3 separate regions of the Homo sapiens genome follow, and regions 1 and 2 are each linked to region 3. The links come from fine-mapping of genetic effects on gene expression. A gene starts in region 3. Each other region holds a variant in brackets. All regions are shown on one strand. Distances are between the middles of the regions. Region 1 overlaps PLEKHA8 (pleckstrin homology domain containing A8). Region 2 overlaps WIPF3 (WAS/WASL interacting protein family member 3). Region 3 holds the start of SCRN1 (secernin 1).

Region 1 (10,443 bases), 79 kb after region 3:
CACTTGTCTACATCTTGATAATTTTGTGATTTTGACTGCATCTAAGAGATTTTTAATAAGCAGGAGTAAAACTGCTGAAATTAGTTATAGCATCAGTTTATTTTCCTCCTTTTCATCATAATTAGACAGCTTTCCAATAAAAATACTGCTTAAGTAAGGTTTGAGGTGAATGTTCATGAAACTTGTATGGTCTTAATGGCCTTGGAAATAGTACATTTATATGTAGAAGTCCTAAATAACATTGTAGAAGCCTTGTCTCCTTTACCTTTCTGGAAAATGCATCTCTAGTTATTGTATTGCTGCAGTTCTGTGACCTGGAATACTTCCAGCATCTGGAAGGAGCCTTAGACTTTACACTGCCCCTTTTTGCACTTGAGCCATCACTTGGCTTCCCCATAATGATAATCAGAGTGGAACATTTTGGGTGGTTTCATGCTAAGAGCTGCTGTGTTCCCTTAGTGTCCTAACATTCTTTAGAGGTCATTTTCAGGAGGGAGTTGGGTTCACAAGGCAGATATGTTTAATAATCTGCTTTAGAGCTGAGTCCCCCTCTCCATTGCATATTCCACATCAGAAAGAGGTTTTGGAAAGCATCCTTGCAAGTGGAAGGAAGAAAAGTTGCTCTGGCATTTCATGCACCATTGTATTAAATGTTATATGCTCTGTGCTCAGTGGGATAACATATTGCCACATATCTCATCTCAGAATGATCCCATAAATGTCAGTAAAAGTTAACCCAACCAAGATCCTTTTCTGGCACAGAATAGAAAAAATTTTAAAAGGATGCTCAGTCATGTATTTAATATGAAAGGCTTTCACAGATAAGGAGAGATAAGTGAGAGAGATAAAGTCAGAACTCATAATCAGATATTTGACATCAAATCATAAGTTGGCCATTCTGAAAATACTATGGAATGTGAATTGTAATACTCTTTCCAGAACCATTTGCAGCATATGCCTCCACTGGCAGGATTGGCTGGCAGCACAAGCGTTAGTCTTAACAGTGCCTGAAATTAACAAAGGGCATCTCTGGGTGCTTGTTTGACCTCTTTCCACTGGTTATTGTCCATACAAGTCAATTTGCCTTAAGCATAGTCACTATAAAGAATTCAGAGGTTACTCTCCTAGTAGCTCTGCTTTTAAAAATACATGCCAAAGCGCTTTGGGAGGCCAAGGCAGGCAGATCACTTGAGCTCACAAGTTCAAGACCAGCCTGGGCAACATGGCGAAGCCCTGTCTCTTCAAAACATTCAAAAATTAGCCATGTGTGGTGGTACCAGCCTGTAGTTCTAGCTACTTGGGGGCCTGAGGTGGGAGGATCACTTGCGCCAGGGATGTTGAGGCTGCAGTGAGCCATGTTTGCACCATTGCACTCCAGCCTGGGTGACAAACCAAGACTCTGTCTCAAAAAAGAAAATTATAAATAATTTAGGCATTTAACAAATATCTACCACTTGACCTAATAGAAAAAAATAGTTCAATACAGTTAAGTGCCCACGTGTCACTCCTTAATCCCGTGACTCCCATCGTTTTCCAGAGATCATCATCCTGAATTTGCGTAGTTCATTATGTAATACATGTTTTTATGCTTTTGCTATATATTTATGTGTCCATAAGCAGCATCTAGCATTGGACTACATGTTTTAAACTTGTATATGAGGTATCATATTGTGCACATTCTTCCTTCTTCACTCAGTATTTTCAGACTTTAGCCACTGTTGAAGTGGCTTGTAGTCCTGGCTCATTAATTTTCCTTGCTGTTTAGCATTTCATTGTATGAATAGACCATGGTTTCGAAAAACTAATATACTGTTAATGGACACAGTTGATTACAGATTTTCACCATTAAAAGCAATTCTACAATGTACACGTTCCTTTCACACATGTTCTCTATCATATGGAAAATTATGTCCAGACAGCACACCAGAAAAAGGAGGAGGCTTCTCATAGCTAAGAGGGACTGGTCCAGGGACTCTGGCTGTCTACAGACTGGTAGTTCATGGGGCCTTACTGCTTGAGAAGCTGTGCTGCCAGAACAGTGGTTCTCAAACTCTAACCTGTATTAGCCTCACCTGGAAGGCTCCTTGAAACACAGATTGCTCTGTAGGCCTGACTTGAGGCTGAGACTTTGCATTTCTAACAAGTTCCCAGGTGATGCTGAGGCTGCTGGTTTGGAGACTACACTGGGAATTGCTGCTGTAGTACATAATACAATTGGAATGGCTGAACCACATGACTAGATATTGCCAAATTGCTCTCCAAAGTCTATAATTACCAGCAGAGTAGTGAGAGTTCCCAATACTCCACATTCTTTTTAGCACTTGTCATTGTCAGCCTTTTAAATTTGTGCCTGATGGCTGTAAAATGATAGAATATTGCCAAAGTTTTTGTTCTTAGATTACAAGTAAGGTTGAGTAGCTTTTCCTGTCTTCACTGGCAGTTTGATATCCTTCTCTGTGAGTTGCCTGTTCATGTATTTGACCACCTTTCTCTTAGGTTTTCTTTATCAACTCCTGGGAGTTCTTTATATTTCCTGGATATTAATCTTTTTCAGTGATGGGTTAAAATGTCTAATCTTTTTCAGTTATGGGTTAAAATGTCTTCTGTCAGTCTGTGGCTTGCGTTTGCTCTTTATCTATGGTGTCTTTTGGTATACAGAAGTTTCAGTTTTTATGTAATCAGACATGTCATTCTTTCTTTATGGATTGTACTTCTTAAAGAAATCCCTCTCTCCCTTGAGGTCACAGAGATGTTCTCTGACATTTTCTTCTCGAAGTTTTGTAGGTTTGCTTTCATATTTATGTCTTTAATCTTCCTGGAATTTATTTTTGTGAATGGTGTAAGGTGGGGATATAATTTTATTATTTCCAATCAGAAAGCCAGTTGTCTTAGCAGCATTTATTGGATCACCCATTCTTTTCCCCACTTGTATGTAATACCAACTTTGAGAGAGAGAGAGAGATCTGTTCTAGACTCCATATTCTGGTCCATTGTTCTTTTGCCCACCTATGCTTTAAAAAGACATGAGTTATAGGATGAAGGTTCTTACTATTCTAAGTGAGTTACTGGACCGTTCTCTCTAGAACTCGTAGGATCTTAGGGCAAGCACACTTCCCCGGTGCCTATCTGTTTCCCACCAGCCTCCTGCCAGACTTGACTACCTGCTTTCAAATCTCCTGGTTCCTAATTCTTGCCTCAGAACTGTCTAGTTGAGCACATTTGCAGAACTATGATTGTCATTTCCTCAGCCCAGTGAGTAATTCCGCCCTTTCTGGCTTTGGTTCTCTACTTCCCAGGCTTTCTCTTAAGACTTAGATTGACATTTCTCTCGTCTTCTCTATAAGCCAAAATAACTTTACCAATTATAGGTTTACAGTAGAAAAACACTTTCCTGTATACAAAGTTCCTGGACAGAATGGTTGTTCACCAACAGTAATGGAAGGGTTGTTCTCTCAGTTACTATAAAAGCTTTAGGCATAATCTCTAAATACCTGATAGCAAGTTTCTGAGTTACTAATAGTAAATGAATGAGAGCTGTGCTGTTTCCATAACCAGGTGCCAATTCTTTCAGAAAAGGATTGGAAAAGGCATATTTTTCATTTTTATTACATTGTTTACAGAGTAAACACCAGTTTTTTTGACAGAATGGTGTGATGCAACAAGAGTGTCCCCAGGTCTCATTGCTTTTAACTTTGTGACCTTGGGAAAGTCACTACCTTTCTGGGTCTTCCATGTCTTCATTTCTAAAAGGAAAAGAATTAGGCAAGGTGATTGTCAAGGCTTCCTACTTAGAAATTTTGACTCAGTTTCTGGGGAACTGACACATCTCAAAGAACTGGGAGAAGGGTATCATTTATGTCTTTCAGAGGCCAAAAATACTCCCAGATTATAGAACATGCATGATGATAATGAATGGGTATTACAGTGAAGATTAATGTATTTCATTATCTAATCTTCTCTAGGTAACCAAAATAGGTCAGGCTTAGACTTCATCTTATTTTAATGCCATCAGTCTCACATGGCAGGGATATTTGCAGCGTAGAAGTCAGCTAAGGACTTTGGGAAGTGTTTTTTTTTTTTTATGACTTTTATTTCATTTGTTGGTTTTAAATTGCAGCAATGATCTCAGTCAAGACCCAGCCCAAATTCTTTTGACACACCTTCTCCCATTAGGTCATCTGGCCCACATTTTGCCAGGTGGAACTCTCCTTTGGCAAGGTATAAGCATAACAAGGAACAGCTTCTTTGTCTACTAGGGCCAAGTGGGAAGACAGATGTGCTGCTGTACAAACACTCTCCCATCCTTAAGCCAGACTCCCCATGCTGTTTGGACTCACAGCACCTTTGTCTTCCTTGTCTTTTTGCTGTCTTTTAGAAGAGGGCATGGAAAAGAGTTTCTAGGCTTTTTTGAACGGTTAACTTGAATGGCAATGTATAGGAAAGGTATAAGGTCTCTGAGGTTGGCATAGCAGCGAATCCAGAGCTTTTTTTTTTTTTTTTGAGACAGAGTTTCTATGTCGCCCTGGCTGCTGGACTGCAGTGGCGTGATCTCGGCTCACTGCAACCTCTGCCTCCCAGGTTCAAGCAATTCTCTGCCTCAGTCTCCCGAGTAGCTGGGATTACGGGCACCCACCACCACACCTGGCTAATTTTTATATTTTTAGTAGAGACAGGGTTTCACCGTCTTGTCCAGGCTGGTCTTGAGCTCCCAACCTTGTGATCCACCCGCCTCGGCCTCCCAAAGTGCTGGGATTATAGGCGTGAGCCACCACCGTGCCTGGCCCAGAGCTCTTTTAAACAAGCATTCTGTCTAGCCAGGTGGGCCTTGGAGCTGGAGGCTCAGGCACCAGGATAGCTGTTACTTGCTACAGACTGTAAAGAAGTGTGAATTTCAACTTGTTATTTCCCTACCACAATTCTGAATCAGAATGATCATGACTTTGCTGACAGAAGAAGGTAATGTTCTCTGTACAGGGGGAAAAAACTAGCAGAATATTTTTCCTGAATACCCACTGTGGTTATCTCTGGGAGAAAGGATTATAGGTTTCTTTAGTTCTCTCCTTTTAAAATATTTTCCTTATTTTCAACAACGGACATCAATCATGAAACCCAAAAAAAGCGATAAATGTTATATTTTTCAAAACTTCCACTGTGCCTTAGGTGGAAGATCAGAATCTTTGACATGATGGATAAAGGTCCTCACAATTTGGCCCAACCCAGTTTGCAAGCTCTGGTGTTCTTCAGATCCAATGAATTTTGCTCACCATCGCCCAGCATGCCATGAGCTCTCACAACGCTGTGATGCTCGCTCTGTCTGCCGCACCATCTACCACTCTGCTCTCTACCCTACCCAGCCTTCGGGATTCCTTCTGAGAATTCTTTGTGTCCACACGCCTCACCCCCAACCCAGACTGGATTAGTTTCTCCCTTCTTACTGTTCCTGTAGCACTGCATACAGAT[A/G]GCTACTCTAGCAGTTATTGACTTATACAATAATGATTGTTAAATGACTGGCTCTTCTATAAACCATCAACTTCTTGAGGACAGGGAATTGACTGAATTTAAATCACCTAAAGATACTACTGTGTGGTAGACTTGCCCTGAATTCTTGTTGAATAGAGCAGGTGTTCATGGTAGATATCCACCAGCAGATTTTAATGGTATTTCTTTATTTATAATGGCATTTAATGCCCTGCATGGAATACTGACACAAGAAAGAAAGGATTCACAGTATCTTACCTTGGTAACTTACCTCAGGATGTTTTCCATGGACCTGTACACCCTCTTGCCAGCCCAGATGGCTGCTCAAATGGTTGAAAATTTGGTTGTCTTGCTGGTTTTTATCAGAGGCTGTACCTAGTATTCTCTGCCCATCTGTACTGTACGCTTTGTGAATCAGCAACCCCTTTCTTCACATTTCTCAGGATATCCTCACTAAGGTCTTGTATGCCATCTGAAATTTCCCTGATGCCATGTCTTCTTACAGGGAATCACCTACGTTTTGTTTGGTTTACATTGAAGACATGTATCTTTGATCATGCCCTAGTTTACTCAGACTGTTCTCCTAAGAAAAAAGTTTAATTTTGGGTTCTCCTTTAGGCTCTAAGAGTCTTCTTCATACTTGAATGTATTAATTATCACTTATTGCTTCTGCTTTAGCTTTAACACACTGGATACTGGCATTCCAGCATATTCCTAAGCTTTAGAGAGCCAAAGGAATCTGTTGTTCTATTTCACATGTACAGTCTTTTATATAAAATATATTGCAATATGTATTGAGTATGTATTTTATATAACATATAATTGCATTTTGTGAAAATTTGAATATGTAAAATTGAAATAGGATATTCTAAAAGTATTAATAAAGCCTCACTCCAATTTTAAAATAAAGTTGACTAGAATGACATAATTTCAAAGCTGGAAGGCTTGAGTTGATTGTAAACTGGGTTGAAGCTGTAGCCACATGGCAGTGCCATTTTGGCCAGTAAAATGCAAATAAATACCTGACTTCCCTTGGCAATGTCCTGTGAACCACGTTGCTTTTCACTGCATAGGAACTTGTACTTGTGGTTTTAGTGTCTGTTTATCTGTTATTTTAACATCTTCTCTTGTTAGAATTGAAAATATTTTTGTAGGCTTAGAATGTCACACTAAGCATTCATGAAATGGTGGTAGTACTTGTGCTGGTGCTAAAACTAGCACATGAAAATAAATATGCTTGGAATAGAATTTAGATATGGAGAAACATGAAGAAGGTCAAATAGCCCCCATGGTACACTGTGCTGTTAATTTAGAAATGAGTGCTCTGTTGCTACTGGAGATGATGCTTAGGAAATAAAGTGGAACATTGAAATAAAAATGCACCATGGTGATGTAGATCTGTGCCTCCTGAGAATGCATTTAATCCTGTGGAGAAATCAGTTTTGAATTTTGCATATATTGAATTATTCAAATTTCAGGAACGCATCCTTTGCATAAAATGCATCCATCTGGTTCTTGGGATTTTTTTCATAATTAAAATTATGATATGCCAGTTTCAAAATCTCCTTTTAAAATACATTGGGACAAAAATTATAGATTAAAGTATGAAACATGAATGGCTTTTATTAATATAGTTCTCACCAATTACTTTAGCTTAATAACTTCAAGCCATTCTTTCCATAAATATTTTTGAAGGTTTCTAGCTTAAATACTGTATATCCAGGGTCATAGGGTCATTTAGGACAAACATTTGGCATCCCAGAATAGAATGTTAAAATTGGAAAAAATCTTAGAGATTATTTTACAAAGGAGGAAACAGATGGTTAGAGAGGGCAGCTAAGGGACTGGCTCACGGTCACAGAACATTTCAAAGTATTTCTAATTGTATTGTCTCAATTTTTCAATATCCTTTCCTCCCTCTTTGTTTCTTTATATGTATTGACCTTTTCCCACCATGATAATAAGCTGAAGTTCAGATATATTGATTGACCCAGAGTAAGAGTGGAAGTATTTGTGTTTCTTAAAAAAAAAAAAAAAAAAAAAAAAAATTCCATGTGAGCTTTTTTACTGCTTTAGATTTTTTGGGTCCAAAATCTTGTAATTAGATTTTTTTCATAATTTCCAAATACCAATAGTATCGTGCTACTATGCATTATACAAATATGGCCAAGAATGGTGGTGCACACCTGTAGTCCCAATGCTTTAGGAGGGCAAGGTGGGAGGATCACCTGAGCCCAGGAGTTCCAGAACAGCCTGGGCAACATAGCGAGACCTCATCTCTACAAAAAATTAAAAATAATTAGCTAGGCATGGTCATCCACACCTGTAGTCCTAGCTACTCGTGGAGCTGAGGCAGGAGGATCACTTGAGCGCAGGAGTTCAAGGCTGCAACTATTATCACACCACTGTACTCTAGCCTAGGTGACAGAGCAAGACCCTGTCTCTTTAAAAAAAAAAAAAGTACATTATACAAATAGCACATCAAATTCTGATGAAAGTGTTCCTCATGGAGTTTTTCTTCTTTTCAAGATAATGCATATGGTAAAACATTGCGGCAACACCATGGCTGGGTAGTTCGAGGGGTTTTTGCGGTAAGTGATCCTTCTTGTCTCCTATTATTAACTGTATTGGGTATGCCAGTGGCTAGGGCTAGAAATCTCTTCTTACCCAGTTATTTATCTAGTCATGATTGTCAGAAACAAAGTTGTGTGTGTGTGTGTGTGTGTGTGTGTATGTGTGGTGTTTTTGTTTGCTTTGTTTTTGAGGATAAGAACAAAATGTTATTTATTTCATTTACGTTTATAGGCCTTTGGTGTGTGGAAATGTCAGCAGTAAAAAGTGTCTGGAATAGCAAAGACTGTTAAAGAAATATGAATAAAAGAGTTGATGCTTTACCCTAGCCAATTCTAATTACTCTAGCCAATTCCAATGACCTTGTGAAGATTTGCCTCATAAGTGGTTGCCTTTCTGATAAGGTAGTAAAAAGCTTAAGTATCCTAGCAGAAGTACGTAGGAAGCAGTGATCCTAAATACTTATCATTGAAGGGAAATGATGCATTCAGGTGATGAAGTCAACCTAATAGCTCCCTCTGCTGCCCATTGTATTCATTCCTTTTAATTCTTAGGTCTTAGTTGATTTTTTTTTCACTAATTGAATTTTGTCCTTGAATATTAACTGTATTGGGTGTGCCAGTGGCTAGGAGGGCTAGAAATCTCTTCTTAGCCAGTTATTTTCATTGTGAAGGTGTTTTGTATTCATGTGTTTTGGCTCTGATTACCCACCACCCTCTTCTTCCCAGCATGTTTAACTAGGAAGAACACAAACCTGAGACTCTTAGTCTCCTGGGGAAGTCACTTAGACTGCTTTATAAAATAGCAGGAGTAGATGGCTCCTTTATGTCAGCAATACACTCTGTGATTCTTCCCATCCAGGAAAAGGTCAGTCTTAGTCAAATCTAGTCATGAAAAGGCAGTCTCATGCAGTTGTATGTCAGGAAACCTCATAGAATGTACTCACATTCTTTGGAAGGTTGGGGAATAAAGTAGCCTTGCAGATGGTATCTTTTACTGATGTAAAGGATGCATCATTTGCCTAAAGAAAGAACTGTTTGGGTCGTGCTTTATTAGGGAGGGCGGTAAAGTGGGAAGAATGTACACTACAACAAATCAGATTCTAATGAAAATGAAATATTTTTTGAAAGCATGGAGATTAAAGCTCCATATCCCATTCACTGTTCACTGGGATAGGTGCTGGACCAAATGAAGCTACAGACTGCTCACCCTTACCTTCAATACACCTTGAATAATCATAATGGCTACCATGTAGCTATTGGACACTTGTTGTGTACCAGGCATTCTTAACAGGTACTTTCATATTCTTTATCTTAATTCTCAGGATTAACTCCCACTATTTTACAAATTCAGAACAATTAATTCCAGTCCCCAAGTACCAGAGTGAGGCTATGTCAGAGCCCAGGTCTAAACTCAGATCTGTTATCTCCAAGGTGCTAGTGCTTACCTCCATTAGAGCTCTCTGCAGTGAAGACACAATCACTGAGAGGCCTCTACTGAGTTCTTAGGCAATGGATGCTCACTGTGGTCATTGATCTCCCTGAATGAATATTGTGATTATTGTGATTGCTAGCTTGTGCCTGACACTTGAGTTGCCCCAAAACAAGTGTGGGGGGAAGGGTTCAGTATAGAATGCAAAATTTAATCCTGAAATATTGATGATCCCAGAGATATTGTCAATAAGAATGCAGCTATAGTAGAAAACTTATCAGCATAAATCTTTTTTTCCTTTACCCTGTACTTTAATGGATGCAAAGCATAAGTCTTTAGGAGGACTTTTTAACTTTATTATACTAATTTAGACTCATAAAAAATTTTAGAAATCATGGTAGAAAGAGAAGAAATTAAAACTGTCCATATTTTCCTTTTTTAACATTTTTGTATTTTACTGTCTTAGCTTTTTAATTTACATATTCTTTTAAATATTGATCTATTTTATATACTTAAATATAATATAGATGTTTATACATGCATATAGTATATGTGTATAATTGTCTTTATTTTGTATACTTACTCTGTATATGTATATACATTTTTTCTACCTTTAGCTTGTATAATTTTATATCCCCCCAACTGAATAGAATCTATCATTATCATTTTTAAATGCCATAAAATAGTCTTTGAAAAAAACACTATTTTTAGTGTCTGTATAATATTTTCCTAGTATGGAGATATCATAATTTATTTGCTCAGTCCTCTGTGTGAGAGACTTAAACTGCTTCTAAGTTTAGAATAAAACAGGTTAGAAATAAAACAGCATCTGTTTATATGCATTTTTGAATAAAATTCTTATTTCTTCAAAATAAATTCCTAGTAGAACTGCTATGTCGAATACTAAGAACTACAACCACAGTTTACAGTTTTGAGCACTTAACATGCACTAGATGTTGTTTT
Region 2 (10,443 bases), 75 kb before region 3:
GAAAAATAAAGTAAAATGTAGAAGCAACTCAAGTATCATAGATAGATGAATGGATAAACAAAATGTGATACACGCATGTACAGTGGAATATTATCCAGCTTAAAAAGTAGGAAGTTCTAAAATATGCTTCAACATGGATGAACTTTGAGAACATTATTCTAAGTGAAATAAGCCACTCACAAAAGACAGACACCATATATGCCTCCATTTACCTAAGTACTTACGGTAGTAGAAACAGCAAGTAGACTGGTGCTTGCCAGAGATTAGAGGGAAAAAGAAAATTGAGAGGTATTGTTTAATGGGTACAGTCTCAGTTTTACAAGATGAAAAGAGTTAAACAAAAGTGGGTACTGATGATTGGTTGCAAAACATTATGAATGTATTTAATACCCCTAAACTATACACTTAAAAATGATTACTAGTCAGCTGGGTGTGGTGGCTCATGCCTGTAATCCCAGCACTTTGGGAGGCCAAGGCAGTCGGATCACCTGAGGTTGGGAGTTCGAGACCAGCCTGACCAACATGGAGAAACCCCATCTCTACTAAAAATACAGAATTAGCCAGGCATGGTGGCGCATATCTGTAATCCCAGCTACACGGGAGGCTGAGGCAAGAGAAGCGCTTGAACCCGTGGACGGAGGTTGCGGTGAGCTGAGATCACGCCATTGCACTCCAGCCTGGGCAACAAGAGTGAAACTCCGTCTCAAAAAAAAAAAAAAAAAAGGTTACTAGTGTAAATTTTATGTTATTTATATTGTACCACAATAAAAATGGAGAAAAAATGTTAATAGGCATTCACTCTAGAAGACTATGGCTGATTTGTACTTTCTTCTTTTGGCGTTTATGCAATTTCCAAGTTTTCTACAATGATTATATTATTCCCGTGACCAGGAAAATATAGTAATAATCATAATCATGTTCCTTCATATTCGTATGGCTCTTTACATTTTTCAGTTAGCTTGCATATGTTATATCATCTAATCCTTTTAATAACCCTGTGATGGAAGCTGGAGAGATACCTTTAATGCCATTTTTATAAAAGAGAAAACTTTCTAGAAATTTGAAGAACTTGCCCATGTCACAATGCCCAAACCTTCTGACCTCTTGTTCAGTGCTTCTTCCATAATGCCTCACTGCTTTTCCTGGCATGTTAGAATCTCCAGGGACAAGAATCCTCCTCACTACCAACGTGTCACACACTGTGCAGGATCTGGTCTCCAGCCTCACGGCAGGCATGCACCCAGATCACCTGAGTCTGGTGGTTTTGATCTCCGCCTGCAAGTCTACTCAAAGTGGATTGTAGTCTCCTTTGGGCATTCCACAGTCAAGAAGATCTTTGTATCTCACTGGATACCATCTTAATTCTCACTGCAGTGAGACACAAAACAATTGAGAAATCACTGGGTTCTAGACATTGCAAACAATACCCCAGGGACTGCTCTTTTTTATGGCTAGAGTGGTCAGTGCATGGGGTGGGAGCCCTGGGCTGGAAGTCTGAATGCCTAAATCGGTTTCTTGCTTTTCCACTGCCTTAACTTGGGGTCTCCAGCACGTTTTTTTTATTTCTCTGAGCTTCCTGTCAAGTGAATTGCTGATGATTGGTTCTATAAATGTTTATAAGACAGTATTAGGTCCTCACATACCATCAACTACATACCCCATTTCATCTGGTTTCCACCCACAGCCCCTTGGGTAAAAGTCAGCTCTTTGCATAGGCATCTCCCCAAACTTGACAGCCTTGCATGAATGAGAAGCTTCGGGGCCCAGCCTGTTTGGGGGGGTGGAGGAGGAAGGCTTTCATGTGCAAGAGTCTTCTAACTCCACCTGGTAATGTTCTGTTATGTTTCCACAGTTATCTCTAAAGACTCTTCGGTGAGAAGACAGATGAAGCGAAGGTCCTGGGGTTCCAGGTTGCAGAACAACATGTCAGACCCCACCCACCCCATGCTCAAGCTGTAATTCAGTTGGCATACAGGCTTGGAATTGAGAATTTATTTATTGTAAATATGTGATTTGCACGGGCTTTAAAGCAGTATTTTAATTGACTTTTATTTCGGTAATATTTTTTAAAACACCCCTCATTTTTCCATTTTTTGCATTGCATCTTGGCATTTGTCAGCACAGATAGAGCCCTGTCCCTCCACCTAGTGCCCACTCCATGACTGTGAATCTGCTTGCAGGCTGGCCCTTCCTAGATTCTGAACCGTTTGTAGAGAGTCCTTAGTTTGCAGGTAGCCCCAAAGTTATAAATATCCACAACGGCTTCTTATTGGCATAATTTCATATTCTCATCACACTAACTGCAAAATCAAACCAAATAATGCCTTATCAATGATGCAGCTCAGAGGAAGTAGCGTGTCCCCCACACCCAGACAGTGCCGCGCAGCCTCCAGGGAACGAGGTGCCATGTCTCGCTTCCATTTTGCAGTACAGGGAATTTTTTTTTTTTTTTTTTTTTTTTTTTTTGCTGCCTAATGTAATACATCACAAAGTAAAGGCAAGAGTGGGCTTGGCCCTCCGATGCCAACCACAGGGCCCCTTTTGTAACTGAATAATCCTCCAAGTAGCCAGTGCTCCTACTGTTTACAGTGTCCCTCGTGCCCAAGTCTCTGTCACTTTCATCCTGTTCCCTCCAAGTTCCCAGTCCCATCCCAGTAGCCAGCTTTATGAGATTTTGGTATTTCTTCCCTACAGATTAAAAACATACACAACTCATCATTATGCTAAACTACCAGTTGTATCTCAGAGGTCTCCCCTTCTGCCCTTGCTTCGAGTGTGGACTTCCATGGAAAATATGACATGAAAAAGTGTAGAACGAAACATCGTGTGAAATACCTGCCACAAATACCTAGTGCCTCACTGCCCCCATCTTAGGATCCTTGGAGCCACCCGTCAGGCAAAACCTAGCTCCCTTCTGAGCTAAAGGAGAACCTTGCCTGACAACTCCACATTCATTCCCTTGTGGTGGGCACCTGTCTGTGGGGAGATGTGTGCAAGCTCAGCCACTCTGAATATGGAAAAGGTCAGGCCGGGCTGGTCCTGCTCTTCACTCCCTCTTCTTGATCCTGTAGGGAGTGGAAATGTGTTTTTGCTTGCTGCCTGACCCCTGATGTTCCCCATCTTTGGTCGGGGAAGACTGTGACAGAGGAAGGAGAAAAAATAGAAGGAAACAGACTGATCCCTGGGCTGTGCTCAAAATAGCTGCCCTTTAAAGGAAATCAGGCAGGGAGGGGAGGGAAACCAGCGAAAAAGAAATTTGCTTTGCAACAACCCACGCACACATTCACCCCTGAAGTATATCATGAACAGACCAAGCCATCCAGAAAGGCAGCCGGTCAGGAGGGTGTGGGCAAACATGACTGCATCTGCCTCACTGTTGTCTGGAGTAACGACTCAGGTGGTGTCCTGCAGCAGTGCTGTGCTTTCTCATTCCAGATGGAAGCAAGTGAGCCAGGGTCAAATTCCCTTCTCCAGGGGAATGAATCAAGCCCAAACTGTAACAGCTAAATAAGTAGAAGTTTTTGCAGGTCATCAGCTCTGGGCATAACTAATTTGTTTTATTGGTTCTGGAAGATTTCCAAAAAGCCAGAATTTATTATTATAACAGTGTCCACTCCACTGCCCTCACAGTTGTGTAAAATAATTATAGAAGTTTTAATGATCCTGATTAAGAAGACCCTAGACAAAGGCAATTCCACCTTCAGAGTAGACTGCCTGCCCTAATGAGGTGTTTAGACATTCGTGTCTCCTATGGCTGGGATGGAAATTAAAATAACACTATTTAAGGACAGAGCGGGCCAGGAGCAGTGGCTCATGCAGGTAATCCCAGCATGGGAGGCTGAGGTGGGTGGATTACTTGAGGTTAGGAGTTCAAGACCAGCCTGGCCAACATGGTGAAACCCTGTCTACTCAAATACAAAAAATTAGCCAGGCATGGTGGCTCACACCTGTAATCCCAGCAACTTGGGAGGTTCAGGCACAAGAATTGCTTGAACCCTGGAGGTGGAGGTTGCAGTGAGCTGAGATGGCACCACTGCACTCTAGCCTGGGCAACAGAGCGAGACCCTAACTCAAAAAAAAAAAAGGACAGAGGGGAGGAAGGAGCAGAAACCAAAAATGGCAATTAGGGAGAAATCTCAGGAATGTGGCATCCCATCTCCCCTTGAGACCTATCACTGAATTCACAACCCTTCGAGCTCATGCTGGTGCACTGAGTCCCTTGGGCGCTGTAAAGGTTTAACCCCTTGACTGTAAACTCAGACTTAGAGACATCTGAGTCACACAGTCCCCGCCATTGTCACATATTCTCACTGACACTGCAGTCTGTGACTCCTCCAATGTTTCACGTGTATTTTATATTTATTGATGTCTCCTTCCGCAGATTCATTTCTTTGTACTTAATAAACTTTAGTAAGTGGAAATGCTTCCAGTCGTTTCCTTGTTAAAACCCATCGGTGGTCACCAGTATCAATCTAAACCAAACATTTTTAAGGATCAGGAGAAGTTGAAGTTCTAAGAATGATAGAAAAAAAATAGATATTTACATGGATACGGTGCTTGCTGTAACATACTGTGTTAGAAACAGGGCCTTTCTTTCTTGAGCTAACTAGCCTAATTGGTATTTGGAAAAAACAAGCAAGAAAAAAAAAATTTCTCAGGTGCATTTTTTAAAAAGTAGATAACACTATATTTATTCAGTTTGATTAACACAGAATGGGCAGTGTATTGCTTATAAATTCTGCTAAATTGTGTTGAAATAGAACAACCTTCCCTCTACGTGCACTTAGTCCCCACTCCCAACTCAGCAAACCCCCCAAAAAAGCCTCCTGTAGGAACAGAATCATCTTGAATCCCCCTGTAGTATTTTAAGGTGGACCTTTGGGAACAGGGTTCAGGGGAGGTGAGATTTATCTGCTAGGCAAGCTATCTCAGAGCTAGTGCTTAGAAGGCAAACCAGGATCTGAATCTCCATTTTGCCTCTTACAAGTTGCCTCTTACAATCTGTGCCTCAGCTTCCTCATTTGTCAAAAGGGGACATAAATATGTACCCGAGTGTATATTGGTGAAGATTCAATGATGTAATACACATGGGCAAGCCCTCAACCCTTGGATCACAACGGAGCCAGTGATGCACACCCTGCACCCCGGGGAGCAGCCAGTTTGCTGGTTCCATGCTTGGGCACAAACAGGGCTCTGCTGGCTGCATCCCAGGCACTTCATTCAGTATTTGCTGAGCTACTCAGACCACACTTCACTAACTCTGCTGCTGGATAACAATGAGAGAGCAGTCATTAAAATTCATAGATGTTCCTGAAATAAATCTCATCTAGAAACTAATTTCAAAGCTGGTTACTACACACTTTGCATCAGAATTAGTTAAGGGGCCGTTTTATTGCTCTCTTATTGGTGGAGGTACAGATTGGCTCTTT[G/C]ATGGCCAAAAGGGCCAGTCTGAATGGGGAAGAAAAAGTAAGGGCCGAAGATAATCTACAAAGTGGATGATGAACTTCAGAGTCACATTGAGCATGGCCGTGGTGAAGTAGCTAGAAGTGTAAGCACCTTTTATGGAGCTAAGTGTGAGAGACGTGCTTCCTAGAGAGGGAGCAAGTTAATGGGAAGGGCCATGGACTCCAGAAGCAAGTTCCAAATTCTCAGACGGTGCCCCGGGAGGCTTCAGCATCCTCCACCCACCCATTCTGTTATGGGTCGAATTGTGTCCCCACAAAAATCCATAGGTTGAAGAAGTCCTAACCCCCAGTACCTCAGAATGTGACCTTATTTAGAAATAGGCCCATTGCAGATATCGTTAGTTAAGATGAGGTCATACTGGATTAGGGTGGGCCCCTGATGCGATATGACTGGTGTCCTTATAAAATGAAGAAATTGGACACAGACATAGACACAGGGAGAACGCCACATGAAGATGAAGGCAGAGATAATCAGGATGCTGCTTCTATGGGTCCCAAAGTGCTGAAGATTGCCAGCAAGCCACCAGAAGGTGGGCAAGAGACATGAAACACATTCTTTCTCACAGCCCTCAGAAGGAACCAACCCTGCAGATGTCTTATTCCTGGGACGTCTGGGCTCCAGAACTGTGAACCAGGAAATTTCTCCTGGTTACGCTGCCCAGTTTGTGGTACTTTGTGACGGCAGCCCCAGCAAAAGAATACAGGCTTTGTCACCCAGAGCTTTGCAGGAGGGTACAATGTTTATGAAAAGAGAGCTGGGAATAAAATTTCAGAATTAGCAGCTCCTTATCATGTAAACAGAGCAGTCATCTACCCTGACCTTGAAATAGGTCATTCATTGCAGGTGACTAAGTCCTATCTTCACGAGCAAGACATTCAGTTGCGTTTTACCTGTCACAGTGGAGAGTCATGGAAAGCAAGCTGGCATTTCTGGGTCACAGGAGTGAAGAGAGCTGGCTTTTTCCCTAAGTGGCATCCTCTCCTGTTGTGGCATTGCTGATGCCTTGGAATCAAGATGTCTGGCACAGAGTACCAGCCACTCTGATGATCTAGACTTCCATTCTAATAACTATGGTAAAATACACATAAAGTCTACCATGCTTACCATGTTTAGTGCTTAATTCATTCGTGTTGCGTACATTCATATTGTTGTACAACCGTCACCACCATCCCTCTCCATAACTTATCTTGCGAAACTTTCTGAAACTCTATACTCATTAAACAGTAACTCCCAATTTCTCCCCCACCTCCAGCCCCTAGCAACCACCCTTCTAATTTCCGTCTCTGTGATTTTGACTGCTCTAGGTACCTCATAGAAATGAAACCATATAATATTCGTGACTGGTTGATTTCACAGAGCATAACATCCTTAAGGTTCATCCATGTAGCATGTCAGAATCTGCTTCCACTTTTTAAGGATGAATAATATTCCATTGTATGGATAGAACACATTTTGTTTCTCCATTCTTCCATCTGTGGATATTTGAGTTGCTTCCAGATTTTAGCACTGTGAATAGTGCTACTATGAACATGGGTGTGCAACCTCTCTTCCAGACCCTACTTTCAATTCTTTTGTGTATACCCAGAAGTGGGATTGCCCGATTATACAGCAGTTCTGTTTTTCATTTTTTGAGCAACTCCATACTGTTTCCCACAATGGATGCACTGTTTTACATTCCCACCAACAGTACATAAGGGTTCCAATTTCTCCACATCCTCACCCACATTTGTTATTTTCTGGTTGTGGTTTTTTGTTGTTGTTGTTGTTTTTGTTTTCAATAGTAGCTATCCTGACGGGTGTGAGGTGATATTTCGTTGTGGTTTTATATTTAAAGACTGAATTTATCCACAGAACATTACATGATGCAAGAAACTGCTGAACTGACTGTTTTCTAAAGATTCTAGCCAGAAAAATATATCCATTCTCATACATTTTCTATATTGCGACTGAGGCCCACGTTTATTCACGAGACACAAAACAGAAGAGGCCACTCCACTGGATGTTAATTTCAGTTTTTTTTATTGTATGCTTGATGCATTTAGAGACAATTCCAAGGGCAAGCACTGGATAGGGATATTATCTGCTTTGTAGATATTTGTACAAAAGACTGTTAAGACTACATGGCCAGTTCCCACTGCAGGAAACAGAATGATTTTCTTTTTTTTTTATTATTATTCCCTGCCAATAGCATTTTCCATCTAACACATTTAAATTCTCACAGCATAATTGCAAACATGTACATATTGGTTCCCACGAGAAATCTGCAGGTGACATTTCGGGATGTTTGGAGTCAATCAGATAAAGCACATTATGACAGAAACCATAAGAGGGGAGCTGGGACCTGGGACTGTGCAGAATGAAAAGCCACGGCTACGGGAAGCATAAGCTTGTGCTGCAACGGCATGTGCACATGACCTGCTGCTCCTGGCCCTCTACGAAGCATGCCCAGCAAGGGAACCTCCTCCGTCCCTCCTCCACGTGCTTCCTTCCTAAGGCTGAGAGCTCAACTGAAGACCTTCCCCAATAAATGACAGATGGCTCTTCAGTCAGGAATGCAGTTAGTGGTTTCATGACAGACACACTGGTCCCACCCGGCTTCCCTGCTGAACCACCCAGTACTGAATAACACCTGTACCAATGTGGGATGACATCAGCTAGGAAGCAAAGTAATTTGCCTGGTTGATGATTATTTTTTATACCTAATGATTCACCCAATAGTAAAGGAACCCCACAGCTAAGGTCTAACAGGCATATACCTGCTCTGTTAGTTTATAAGAAAGACTCGTTCTAATAACACCAGGTCTTATATTATTGAGCACTAAGGAACCTCCATAATTTCGATTATATTCTACCTAAAATTTCAAAGCACCTCCAAGAATGAAAGGGTACTATTTCTGCTTTGCTAATTTACTCCTGCCAGAGCTTCTGTCCTTGAATATGAGGGCTATCTTCACCTATAGTAAATCCCATCTATTAGACAAGACTAGCTAGCTTATGTTTGGTTATGGGGCAAGGGAGTGGGGGAGAGATTCTGTCCTTTCTGGCTATGGCTTCTTTCTGCACAAGCATGCTCAGCCCCCACCCCAGTCTGAAAAGATACACAAAGGGTTTCCTAGGAAGCTACTTATACACTATGACCCTTAAACATAATTTTTGTATTTCATCTTGAATATTCATGTTCCCTATACTGCCTTCAGAAAAGCAATCCCTGGTCCACAAATTATTCATGTAACAAGCATTTTTCAAAAGCAAAATCTGTTAGGAACATTTAAAAATGAACATTCCTCACTATAACAGCCTGCTCAAAACCCAACAACCTATTTCCAGCTGTTAATATAAGTACATAAAGTCACTAAAAGTAAGCGCAGCCACATCAGCAGATTCTCTGCTCTCTTGTCGTCTTTCTCCACCCATCCCAATGCACAACTGTCAACTGTGCTTATAGACCACCTCCAGACCTGATGGGAGCTGCCACACCCCTTTTAACTTTTGCCAGGCTGTACCATGCCCTCTAGTGGTAGGACTAGGACATCACAATTGTGGTGCAGAGTATTAGCCAAGACAGCTCTCAATTAGGGTTGCCTTCTTTAAGATGCTTGACCAAGGTCAATGTACCCTAACAGAAGTAGCCATTGTGTTTCCCAATGGGTAATGACATAAAGCGGGTAGGGTTATCCATGGCCTTTGTTTGGCCCATAGAAATGAAAGGAGGCTTCTGTGTAATTAATTCTTACTAGACTTCTTTTGATCAAATCCTGAATCACCTTGGTTATCTCAGACATGTCAGGTCTGATGAGACATTTCATAGTAGGCGAAGGTGAAATCACTCAGTGAGATTTTAGAGCAGCTTTCTGTATCATCTTGCTTTACATAGCCACTTGGAACATGGACTTGGGAGGGGAGAGTTACCTACGTCATCCTCGAACCTCACTTTCCCCCCCCCTTAACAGTGATAGAAAGACACTTTTAGAATAGCCGCCCCACCTAAAAGGACACTCTAAATTCACCAACAGTGAAAGCCCAGGCCAAACCTGCGTGAAGCTCTTAGCAGCTACAGGCCACCATTATTGGTTGCCATTAACTCTGTCAGCTGAAATCGTCTTCCCATCACCCACAATGTGTGGTTAATGATTTTATATACAGAGTTTACAAAACTGCTGACTAAAAAGCTCATGGCACTCCTATACTCACGCTCTGGAGAGTTGGTAGAAAAAAAGAATGTGTTCTGATAAAACCTCTGATCCTCACTGTTCACATCCATGTAACAGGGCTCGGTCCCCTCAAAATCTCATGATACAGCTTCTGGGAAGGAGTTATTAACCCTGTCACTTCCCAGATTGCTGATACTCACAATGTTTCCATTTGCAGATTCCTGCCAAGAATGATGAGGCAGGATTAGGCCCAACTGGTGCTCTCCCACTAGCTGCTGTATTTACATACACTTCTGTTCATCATCTCTGCCCGTTTCAGGAGTAGCTGAGAGCTTGAATAGGTGGCGGTAAGCTCCCACCACCACCCCATGCCCAGTGCAGCTACCCGCCTGAATGAAGGCAGCTCCTGGGACATGTGAGGTGTGAGGAGTGGGGGGAAGATCCAGGGAAGTCAGCTGCTTTGTATTTGGGTTTGTGGGATGTAATGGCCTTGGCAGGAATGGTGGGGCCTGAACTGGTATCCTGCAGAGAAATGCTTCTATATCCATCTATCACCTCCTTGCCCTCTGTCTTCCCAATGCTAAGCCCATCTGGTCTTCCTTGCATGCTTTTCTATGCTCTGGTGGTAAGTCAAATCCTTTAAGTGAACCCGACATTGGAAACAAATCAGTTTAATTAAAGTCTCTCTGCTGAGATAATGTAGTGACTGCTAGGATTCCAGATATTTAACTAGAATCTAAATAGTCAAGAGTTCTTCCTTTTCTTTCCCTCCTTGGCTGAGAGATTCACTACTCTGTGGGTGGAACTGTGCCATAGGGCCATTCAA
Region 3 (9,944 bases):
CACAAACACAAGCAACTCAATTTTTAATCAAAAAATGTACTTCTTGCCTCAAAGACTTTACTAAAATAATGTTTTTGGTTCTTAACTATAGAAACAGTTTCACCACTGGAAAATGTGAACATGAGGTAGATACAGCTTAAGAAGTTAAAAGTCTTGAATTAGGAAATTAAGGTGTTGTCATTGACTTTAAACACCTATAGACTTTGTAATTCATATTACAGTTTGGCTTCCCATTGCTCGAAGTGTTTGCCTTCCTAATAATGACAGACTTGCTGTTCTCCCCCAGGCTCTAAAAGGTAGCATGTGGAACCCGGGGGAGTTATGAGACCTGGATTTGGGTTCTCACTGCCAGTTGACAGCCAGATATATGATCTTGGCGTCCATTCGCCCCGCTGGCCTCAGCCTTCCTGCTGTAAAAAGGGGGTTGACAGCAGGCTCCTTAAGACTGCCTCCACCTCTGCCCCCCGACCTTAGCTCATCCTCCTCTATTCCATTATCCCTGAAGCATTTGCCTCCTCATGTATCTCCTTCCCAAAAGACAAGATGGCTGGCAGCACGGAAGTGAAAAGGGAAAGAAAGGCTGTTTAAAAAAAAAAAATTCTAAAATGAGTCACCTTTCAAGAATTTCCCATTTCCTCATGCCTGGGTGCTTCCTCGTGTCGCTAAATCAGTTCTTCCAATGAAACTTGATCTAAGAACCTGGTATTTGTTATGTGCACTGCTCTTGGATGATGTTTACAATGTGCACACATCTCTTTTAAGAGCTTGTAGGTATCAAACGACCTCCAGGTTGTGCATCAAAAAGACATCAGCAGCCACAGAGTCAACTTTAGTTGAGCCTGGAGAAAATCATACAAAACCGTAGAGTTTTAACTAGGTTTTGTATCATCTTTTGATAAGTTAGGAAAAATAATTACAGCTCTCCAAACTTCCCACTTAACAACTCCCAGGACCCTGCAGCACCCTAAAATCTAGCCAGCTCCAAGAATCACTCTCTACTCCATACCCGGATGAGCCTTGACTCACACTAATTCCCTCCCTGAGGCTTAAGTCAGGGGGCAGCTGATGGTTGTGGTCTGTGCTGCTTCCGCCTGGCCTATTTTTCATGCTGCCATTTTGAATTAGCATAGGTTTCCTCCGCAACTGATGCATCTTCTAACCAGGCTGGGAACACAACACGCGCACACGCGCACACACACACGCACGCACCCACCCCACCCGGCTGCCGGACGCAAGCGTAAGTCAAGGACTTGCATGCTAGAATCAGACAGAAAATCCAGAAAAGCCACGTTATTTAACAGAACCCTACAAGGTCAGCTTTGAGTCAAAGCAGGTAACAGTTTCCTTCGATGTTTTCATGGACATTTTTATTCCCAAATCCGAGTTCTCGCCAATTCTCTAAAGTTCAAGCGCCCCTCCTGCTTTGCAGACCACATTTCTCTCGGCCCTCGCGAGTGAGGTCGCCAAATACTCGACGCCTCAAGAGCGAGCCGAGGAGGCAGAGGCCGACCAAGCCGGCCTCTCGGCAGCCCCGCCCGGCGCCCCGCGGAGAACGCCCGGGTGCGGCTCGAGGGAAGTTGTGTCAAGTCCCACGCGCGGCCCGCGGAGAACCCAGGGGCGGCCCGCGCGCGTCGGCCTAGCGGGGAGGGCTGCTCCGGGACACGGTGCGGCGGCCGCGGGCGAGTTGGACGCGCTGGCAGAGCCGGGCCGAAGGCGGCGGGCGTCTCCGGGCAGCCATGTTCGCGGCGCCCGCCCGCGCAGCAGGTACGGCACCTCGGGGAAGGTGCCCGGCTCGCCCCAGACCCCAGGGTGGCGAGGCCAGGGGCCCACAGGCACATCCCAGTGGGCAGCAGGTTGGCTGCCAGGAAAAGGAAACCCAGGAAGAGCAGCGCGGGGAACCCGGCTGCGGTGCGGGAGCCCGGGGCCGGCATCCCTCCACTGCACCCCCGCAGTCCCCGAGCCGAGTCACCCCGGCTTCAGGCCGAGGCCACCTCTCCTCTGACCGCCCCCAGGCTCCCAGCCCGCCCGGGCCAGCACCGGGAATCGGCCTGGGGTAACGCTACCCGCGGGTTCGGAGGGACAGCGGGAGGAGATGAAACGCAGGAGGTGGCGATGGCGGGTGGGGTGAAACCGCCGGGAAAGCAGCGCTGCAAACGCCCTGCGCTCCCAGACGCGGCTCACCTGGGGCGGCGGGCTCCGGGCTCCGCTCTCCGCTCTGCGGTGCTGAGGCTGCGGCCGCCGAGGGTGCGGGTGCTGCCGGGTCCGGATTACTGCGGCGACCTCGGGGGCTGCAGCTGCAGTGGCGGAGGCGGCCGCCGGGCGCTTCCCCCTACCCAGACTCCCGGCGCTGGGGCCCGCCGCCCCCCGCAGCAGCTGGCCCGACTCACGTGACCGCGGGCCCACCCTCCGCCTCCCCCACCCCGGCCCCCGGGGCCCCGCCGCACCCCGCGCGTCTGGCTGCACGGGCCGCGGCGCTGCTCACCGTCGAGTAGGGAGGGGGCCTGGGAGCTGGAGGAGCGGCCGAGAGGGCGTATCTCGCCGCAGAAAGTGGCCCCCTCTTTGCTAGATTTTTATTTCTTGGTTGTGGCTCTCAAAAGGGAAAACCCGGGCTTCAAGGAGCCAGGCCCAGCATCCTTTTGGCGCCTCTTCCCGACGTTTGGTTGCTACGTCCGGGCCTCGGCGCCCACACAAGATTTCCCCGGAGAGAAATGTGTCCTGTACCTTGTTGACTCGCACGTCCAAGTCGAGTCCCTGGTTTTAAAAGTGCCGTCCTGTACCATGTTGGTAAGCCAGACCCTGTCCCAGGTACTTGGACATTGTGGCCTAGAGAGGTTAAGTAACTTGCCCAAGGTCACACAGCACGTAACTAAGCCAAGATTCCATATCTGGGTTAATAAAGTTATGTACAGGGACTTGTGTGTTGTGTGTCTGTGTGTGTGTGTGTGTGTGTGTGTTGATGCCAGCGTCAACTCCATCTTTTATAAGTAAATAAGAAAAGACTATCTCAAAAGATATGAAGACGTAATTCAGAGGAAAATAAATGCAATTCTATCCTGGCACACGAAAAGATATTCAGGCTCACTTAACTGCAAATCAAATATGTGGGGTAGCATCTTCCACCAGCCAGATTAACAAAAATCAAAACATTTTGAGTCTTGCTTTGTCGCCCAGTCTGGAATGCAGTGGCAGGATCTCGGCTCACTGCAAACTCCGCCTCCTGCCTCCCGCCTCCCGCCTCCCGCCTCCCGGGTTCAAGCGATTCTCGTGCCTCAGCCTCCCAAGTGGCTGAGACTACAGACCCACGCCACCAGCCTCGCTAATTTTTTTTGATTTTTAGTAGAGATGGGGTTTCACCATGTTGCCCAGGCCGGTCTCAAACTCCTGAGCTTAGGCAATCCGCCTGCCTCTACTATCCAGCTTCCTTTAAAAAGGAGAATGATCTTTATTTGCTAATACAAAACTATTTCCAACCTATACTAACTAAAGAAAAATAAAAAGCTAGGTGCAGAACGTTGTGTGTGTTATTTGTGGGAAGAAAATATATATGTATGTCTGTACTTATTTTTGTAAATGCACAGAGTATCTTTGGAAGAGTACGTAAGAACCTGTAATAGATGCCACCAGGGAGCAGAACTGGGAGACTGGGTGCTGGGGAGAGAAGGAGACTTTTTTCCATGCCCTTTGAATGTTGAGCCTGTGCTTACAGTCTGACACATGAGTAAACGGATAGTGGGGAAGGGCTGAGGAAGTTGGTGTAGGTACTGCAGAATAGAGCATTGGTTCGTAGACTCTTGGAGCACAAAGGTACTTTACTGTTCTTTTAGTCTAGCCAAGAAAACTGTAGCCAATGAGTCTAAATAATCAATATTAGAAATTTCTAGCGGGCTTATTCCTGGGTTCCAGCCCAGATCTATGGAATTCAGAGTCTCTGGGGCTGGAGCCAGGGAACCCGCATTTTTCAAGCTCTTTAGTTGTTTCTCTTGCATGTTAAAGTCTGAAAGTCCGTGAGGTGTGGGTAGGGAGAGCATTAGGAAAAATAGGTAATGCATGCTGGGCTTAATACCTAAGTGATGGGTTGATAGGTGCAGCAAACCACCGTGGTACACGTTTACTTATATAACAAATCTGCACATCCTGCATATATACCCCAGAACTTAAAATAAATATTAAACTTTTTTTAAAAGTCTCAGAGTCGCTGTTTTATTTTTTGTTTGTTTTGAGATGGGATCTCGCTCTGTCACCCAGCCTCGAGGGAAGTGGCTCACTGCAGCCTCTACCTCCTAGGCTCAAGTGATCCTCCTACCTCAGCCTCCTGAGTAGATAGGACTACAAGCATGTGCCACCATGCCTAGCTACTTTTTAAAATATTTTTGTAGAAATGGAGTCTCACTATGTTGCCCAGGCTGGTTTCAAGCTCCTGGACTCAAATGATCCTCCTGCCTTAGCCATCTGAAGTGTTAAGATTACAGACGTGAGCCACCGTGCCCAGCCAGAGTCACTGTTTTAAATGTCTAGTTTAAGACTACACCACTACTAGAAAGGCAAATGCAATCCTGTGCCTTCCTATAGCCAGTATATGTCATTTGTTGTGTAAAGGATGGCACTTGCACCCTACGCTGCTCCCCTGGAGGCAGCCATATGCTCAGTACACGGATAGGGGATACTGCCAACCTGCCTGCCTGGCCTGAGATCTTTGAAGCCTGTTGGTTTGTCCCTACACAGCCACAGGAGCTTTGAGGCCAGGAGCCCAGGAACACATGGAGATTGAAAGACACCTGCTTTCCCCAGGGTCTGCATGGAGAAGCTTATTATATGGCACTATGAACGCTTATTAAACAGCAGCAATGACCGGGCATGGTGGCTCATGCCTGTAATCCCAGCACTTTGGGAGACCAAGGCGGGTGGATCACGAGGTCAGAAGATCAAGACCATCCTGGCCAACATGGTGAAACCCCGTCTCTACTGAAAATACAAAAATTAGCTGTGTGTGGTGGTGCGTGCCTATAATCCCAGCTACTTGGGAGGCTGAGGCAGGAGAATAGCTTGAACCAGGGAGTCAGAGGTTGCAGTGAGCCAAGATCGTGCCATTGCACTCCAGCCTGGGTGAGAGAGTGAGACTCCGTCTTAAAAAACAAAAACCAGCAGCAATACACTTATTTTGTCTCTGCTTTGTATCCAAAAGACAGTCCCTACTATTATTTGAGCTGCATAAATAGAGATAAGAGAACAGAACTGTCCAACAAATGTGGAGAACACCAAGAAATATCAGTAAGGGCTTTAATCATTGGCCTCTATCAATTATGTGAGGTTTAACTTTGAGTAAATTATAAGATTTCCATGAGCTAGCTTGCAAGGAAAAAAAATGTCTTAAATGACTTGCAACTGTTACACGGTCATTTATATTCCATCTAGTCATATTCAGAGACTTAAGAGCTAAAAAATACAAGTATAACAGATTTCCTTTTTTCTCTTCCGCCCTGAGAAGGACATGATCCCTACAGAGGTTACTCTCTGCAGCTGAGGCAGAAGGAGATTATAGCTAGAGGCTGTCTGCTAAACATGTCTGGAGGGTACACTCAGTGATGACCACAGATACTAATAGTGTTTTCAGTTTGGAACAATTATGAATAAAGCTGCTAATAATATTTATCTACAAGTTTTATGTAAGTGTAGGTTTTCATTTCTCTTGGGTAAACATTAGATTGGTGCAAAAGTAATTGCAGTTTTTGCCATTACTGTTTTAAAAATGGCAAAAACTGCAATCACTTTTGCACCAACCAACCTAATACTTAAGAGTGAAGTGGGTGAGTCATACGGCAGGTGTATATTTAAATTTATAAAAAGTTGCCAAACTGTATTCCAAAGTGGTTTTTACCATTTTACATTATATCAGAAATATATGAGAGTTCCAGTTGCTCCACATCCTTATCAACACTTGCTATTATCAATCTTCTAAATTTTATCGATTCTCACAAATGTGTACTGAAATCTCCTCGTGGTTTTAATTTATATTGCCTTTTTTTTTTTTTTTTTGAGACAGCATCTCACTCTGTCTCCAGGCTGGAGTGCAGTGGTACGATCTCGGCTCACTGCAACTTCTACCTCCCAGGTTCAAGCAATTCTCCTGCCTCATTCTCCTGAGTAGCTGAGACTACAGCTGCACACCACCATGCCTAGCTAATTTTTCTATCTTTAGTAGAGATGGGGTTTTACCATGTTGGCCAGGATGATCTTGATCTCTTGACCTCATGAGCCACCCGCCTCAGCCTCCCAAAGTGCTGGGATTATAGGCATGAACTACCATGTCCAGCCTATATTTCTTTGCTGATTAATAATGGTGAGCAACTTTTCCTATACTTGTTAGCCATTCATATATGTTCTTTTGGAAAGTGTTTAAGTCTTTTGCCTGTTAAAAAGTTTTATATTTTTAATTAGTATTATTATTACATGTTAAGAATTCCTTATATCTGGATACAAGTTCTTTATCATATTTATGTATTACAAATATATTCTTTCAGTATATGTCTCGCTTTTCATTAGTGGTGTCTTTTGAAGAGAAGATTTTAATTTTGTTATGCTCAATTTATCAATATTTTTTCTTTTATAGTTAATACTTTTTATGTCCTAAGAAATTTTGCCTACTCCAAGGTTGCAAAGATTTTCTTCTATGTTTACATCCAGAGATGTATAGTTTTTTAGCACTTATGTTAAGACCATGGTCCATTTCAAGTAAATTTTTGAATAAGTGGAGGTAAAATTCCAAGTTTATTTATGTGACTATTCAATTGTTCCAGCACCATTTGTTTTCCCCCAGGATTTACCATGCTATTGACAAAAGTCAATTGACCGTGTAAATGTAGGTATATTTCTCAACTCTCTCTTCCATTCTATTGGTCTACATAATTATTCTTTTTTTTTGAGACAGAGTTTCACTCTTGTTGCCCAGGCTGCAGTGCAATGGCATAATCTTGGCTCACTGCAACCTCCGCCCTCCAGGTTCAAGCGAGTCTCCTGCCTCAGCCTCCCAAGTAGCTGGGATTACAGGCATGTGCCACCACACCTAGCTAATTTTGTATTTTTAGTAGAGACGGGGTTTCTCCATGTTGGTCAGACTGGTCTCGAACTCCTGACCTCAGGCGATCTGCCCACCTCGGCCTCCCAAAGTGCTGGGATTACAGGCGTGAGCCACCATGCCCGGCTATGTATTTATTCTTATGCCAATACTATACTCTCTTGATTATTATAGATTTATATCAAGTCTCGAAGTCAGGCAGCTTAAGTCTTCCAAGTTTGTTCTTTTTCAGAACTGTTTTGGCTATTCTAGGTACTCTGCACTTGGTTATAAATTTTAGAATCAGCTTGCCAATTCCTATACAAAATGCTGACTGGAATCACATTCAATCTATAGACCAATTTGAGGAGAATTTACATCTTAATAATATTGAGTCTTCCAATCTATGAACATGGTATATTTCTCCATTTTTTTAGGTTGTCTGTAAGTTTTCTCAGCAAATATTTAGAGTTTTCAGCATACAGGTCTTGGACATATTTTATTTAATAATTATTTCATGTTTTTGGGTGTTATTGTAACTAATCATTTTAAATTTTATTTTTCAATTGTTCATTGCTAGAATATAAAAATGCAATTGGTTTTTGTATATGGACCTTATATCCTATGACTTTACTAAATATGCTTATGAATTCTATTAACTTTTTCATCATTTGTTAGAATTTTCTCTGTACTCAATCATGTTGACTAAAAATACATTTTTAGTTATTCCTTTTCAATCTATTTGCCTTTTAATTCTTTTCCATATCTTATTGCATTTGCTAGGACCTACTTAATGCTATAGAGGAACAGTGAGAACAAACAAGTTCAGTCATTCACCACTAAGTATGATATTATTTGTAGAGTTTTTTACAGATACCATTTATCATGTTGAGGAAGTTTCCTTCTTTTCCTACTTTGCTGATAGTTTTATTTGTTTTTTCATTTGTTTTTAATGATGAATCAGTGTTGAATTTTGTCAGCTGCTTTTTCTGCATCTATTAAGATGATGAAATGCTTTTTATCCTCTATCCTGTAAATACGATAAAATACATTAATTGATTTTCAAATGTTTAACTGCATTTGGGGGATAAATCTCAATTTGGTTATGATGAATTATCTTTTTTATATATTTCTAGGTTGAATGTGCTAATATTTTGCAAAACATTTTTGTGCCTATTTTTATGAGAGATATTGGCATATAGATTGATACATAGTATTCTTTTCTGGTTTTGGTGTATAGGTGATACTGACTTCATAATATAAGCTGGTAAGTGTACCCATCTCTTCTATTTTCTGAGTATTTGTAGGACTGGTATTTTTCCTTCCTTAAATATTTGATAGAGTTTGCTAATGACTTCATCAACCTGGAATGCAGTTTTGATTGTGAAAATATCTTAAAGTATGAATAAATTTCTTAATTGACATATGGTTATTCAGGTTTTTCATTTGTCCTTAAGTCAATTTTGATAAATTGTGTCTTTCAAGGAAATTGTCCATTTCATGTAAGTTGGTGAATTTATTGGAAAAAATAATTTATAGTATTTCTTTATTATCCTTTATTATTCATAGCATCTGTAGCAGTGTCTCCTCCTCTGCACTTCTCTAGGAAATTTGTGTCTTTTTCTTTTTAAGGATTAGTCCAGTAGAGATTTATTGATTCCTCTGATCTTTTTGAAGAACCAGTTTTCAGTTTCACTGATTTTCTCTATTGTTTAAACTTTCTTTTATTTACTTTGAGTTTAATTTGCTCTTCTTTTTCTAGCTTCTTAGAACTTAGATCATTGATTTTAGATTCTTTGTCTTTTCAAAGTATATGTAGGAATAAACCTTTACCTTTAAAAATAAACTTTATATAAGTATATAAAGATATAAATTCCCCTCTAAGCACTGCTTTAGCATCATCCTCCAAATTTGATATGTTATGTATTAGTTTCTTCTGGCTGCTATAACAAATTACCACAAACTTGGTGGCTTAGCTCAAAACAACACAAACATTTCCTCACAGTTCTGGAGGCCAGATGTCTGAAATCAGTATTACTGGGATGGACTCAAGGTATTGACAGGATCTGGCACCATCCAGAGGCTCTCAGGGAGAATCTGTTCCTTGCTTCTGTCAGCATTTGGTGGCTGCTAGCATTCCTTGGCTTGTAGCCACATCACTGCAATCTTCTAGGCCAGCATCTTCCAATCTCTCTTTCTGTTCTGTCTTCACATAGCTTTCAAAACTCTCTGTGATCAAATCTTCCTGTGCCTCCCTCATAAGGATACATATGATTGCATTTAGGGACCGCCATGCTAATCTAGGATAATCTTCCCATCTCAAGATCCTTAACCTAATCATATCCATAAAGTCCTTTTTATTGCCATATAAGATAATATCACAAATTTCAGGAATTAGGATGTAGATATCTTTTAGGAAGCCATTTTCCTCATACCACATGTTGTATTTGCATTTTCATTCATTTTATTTCACTTCATTTTCATATTTTCTAAGTTCTCATATTTCTTTTCCCCATGGGTATTTTTGTTTTATGGCCTAGCTATGGACCATCTTGGTGAATTTTCCATGTGTGTGTTAAAAACCTGTGTATTCTGCTGTTGTTGAGGGTACTGTTTTATAAAAATCAATTAGATCAAGTTGGTTGATAGCATTGTTCAAGTCTTCTATTACGTATAGATTTTTTTTTCCATATTTGTTCTATCAGTTACTAAGAGAGGATTGCTGTAGCCTTGAACTGTATTTGTGGATCTTTCTATTTCTTTTAGTTCTGTCAATTTTTGCATCTTGTATTTTGAGGATCTGTTAGGAGGTACATACATACTTAGGATTGCTATGAATTATTTTAAAATGTCTCTTTTTTCTCTCTGGTAATATTTATTGTCCTGAAGTCTA

Evidence for each region.
Region 1: its variant is fine-mapped to the expression of SCRN1 in whole blood (INTERVAL, PIP above 0.99).
Region 2: its variant is fine-mapped to the expression of SCRN1 in whole blood (INTERVAL, PIP 0.97).

The regions. Positions count from the first base shown.
Region 1 is chr7:30,066,064-30,076,506 of GRCh38, forward strand. It overlaps PLEKHA8 (pleckstrin homology domain containing A8), which reads left to right. Exons shown (of 14, transcript NM_001197026.2): 13 at 8,008-8,069. Among named protein-coding and RNA genes, the nearest start is that of PLEKHA8, 43 kb to the left of the region's middle. The variant A/G (reference allele first, on the strand shown) is at 5,461.
Region 2 is chr7:29,912,641-29,923,083 of GRCh38, forward strand. WIPF3 (WAS/WASL interacting protein family member 3) reads left to right here. Exons shown (of 9, transcript NM_001080529.3): 9 at 1,853-4,421. The coding sequence ends at 1,876. SCRN1 (secernin 1) reads right to left here. Exons shown (of 8, transcript NM_014766.5): 8 at 7,469-10,443. Among named protein-coding and RNA genes, the nearest start is that of FKBP14-AS1, 71 kb to the right of the region's middle. The variant G/C (reference allele first, on the strand shown) is at 5,430.
Region 3 is chr7:29,987,461-29,997,404 of GRCh38, forward strand. SCRN1 (secernin 1) reads right to left here and starts at 2,341. Exons shown (of 8, transcript NM_014766.5): 1 at 2,182-2,341. FKBP14-AS1 (FKBP14 antisense RNA 1) reads left to right here and starts at 1,196. Exons shown (of 3, transcript NR_187577.1): 1 at 1,196-1,333. RefSeq lists silencers at 1,568-1,687, 1,778-2,047, 2,058-2,107, 2,128-2,467.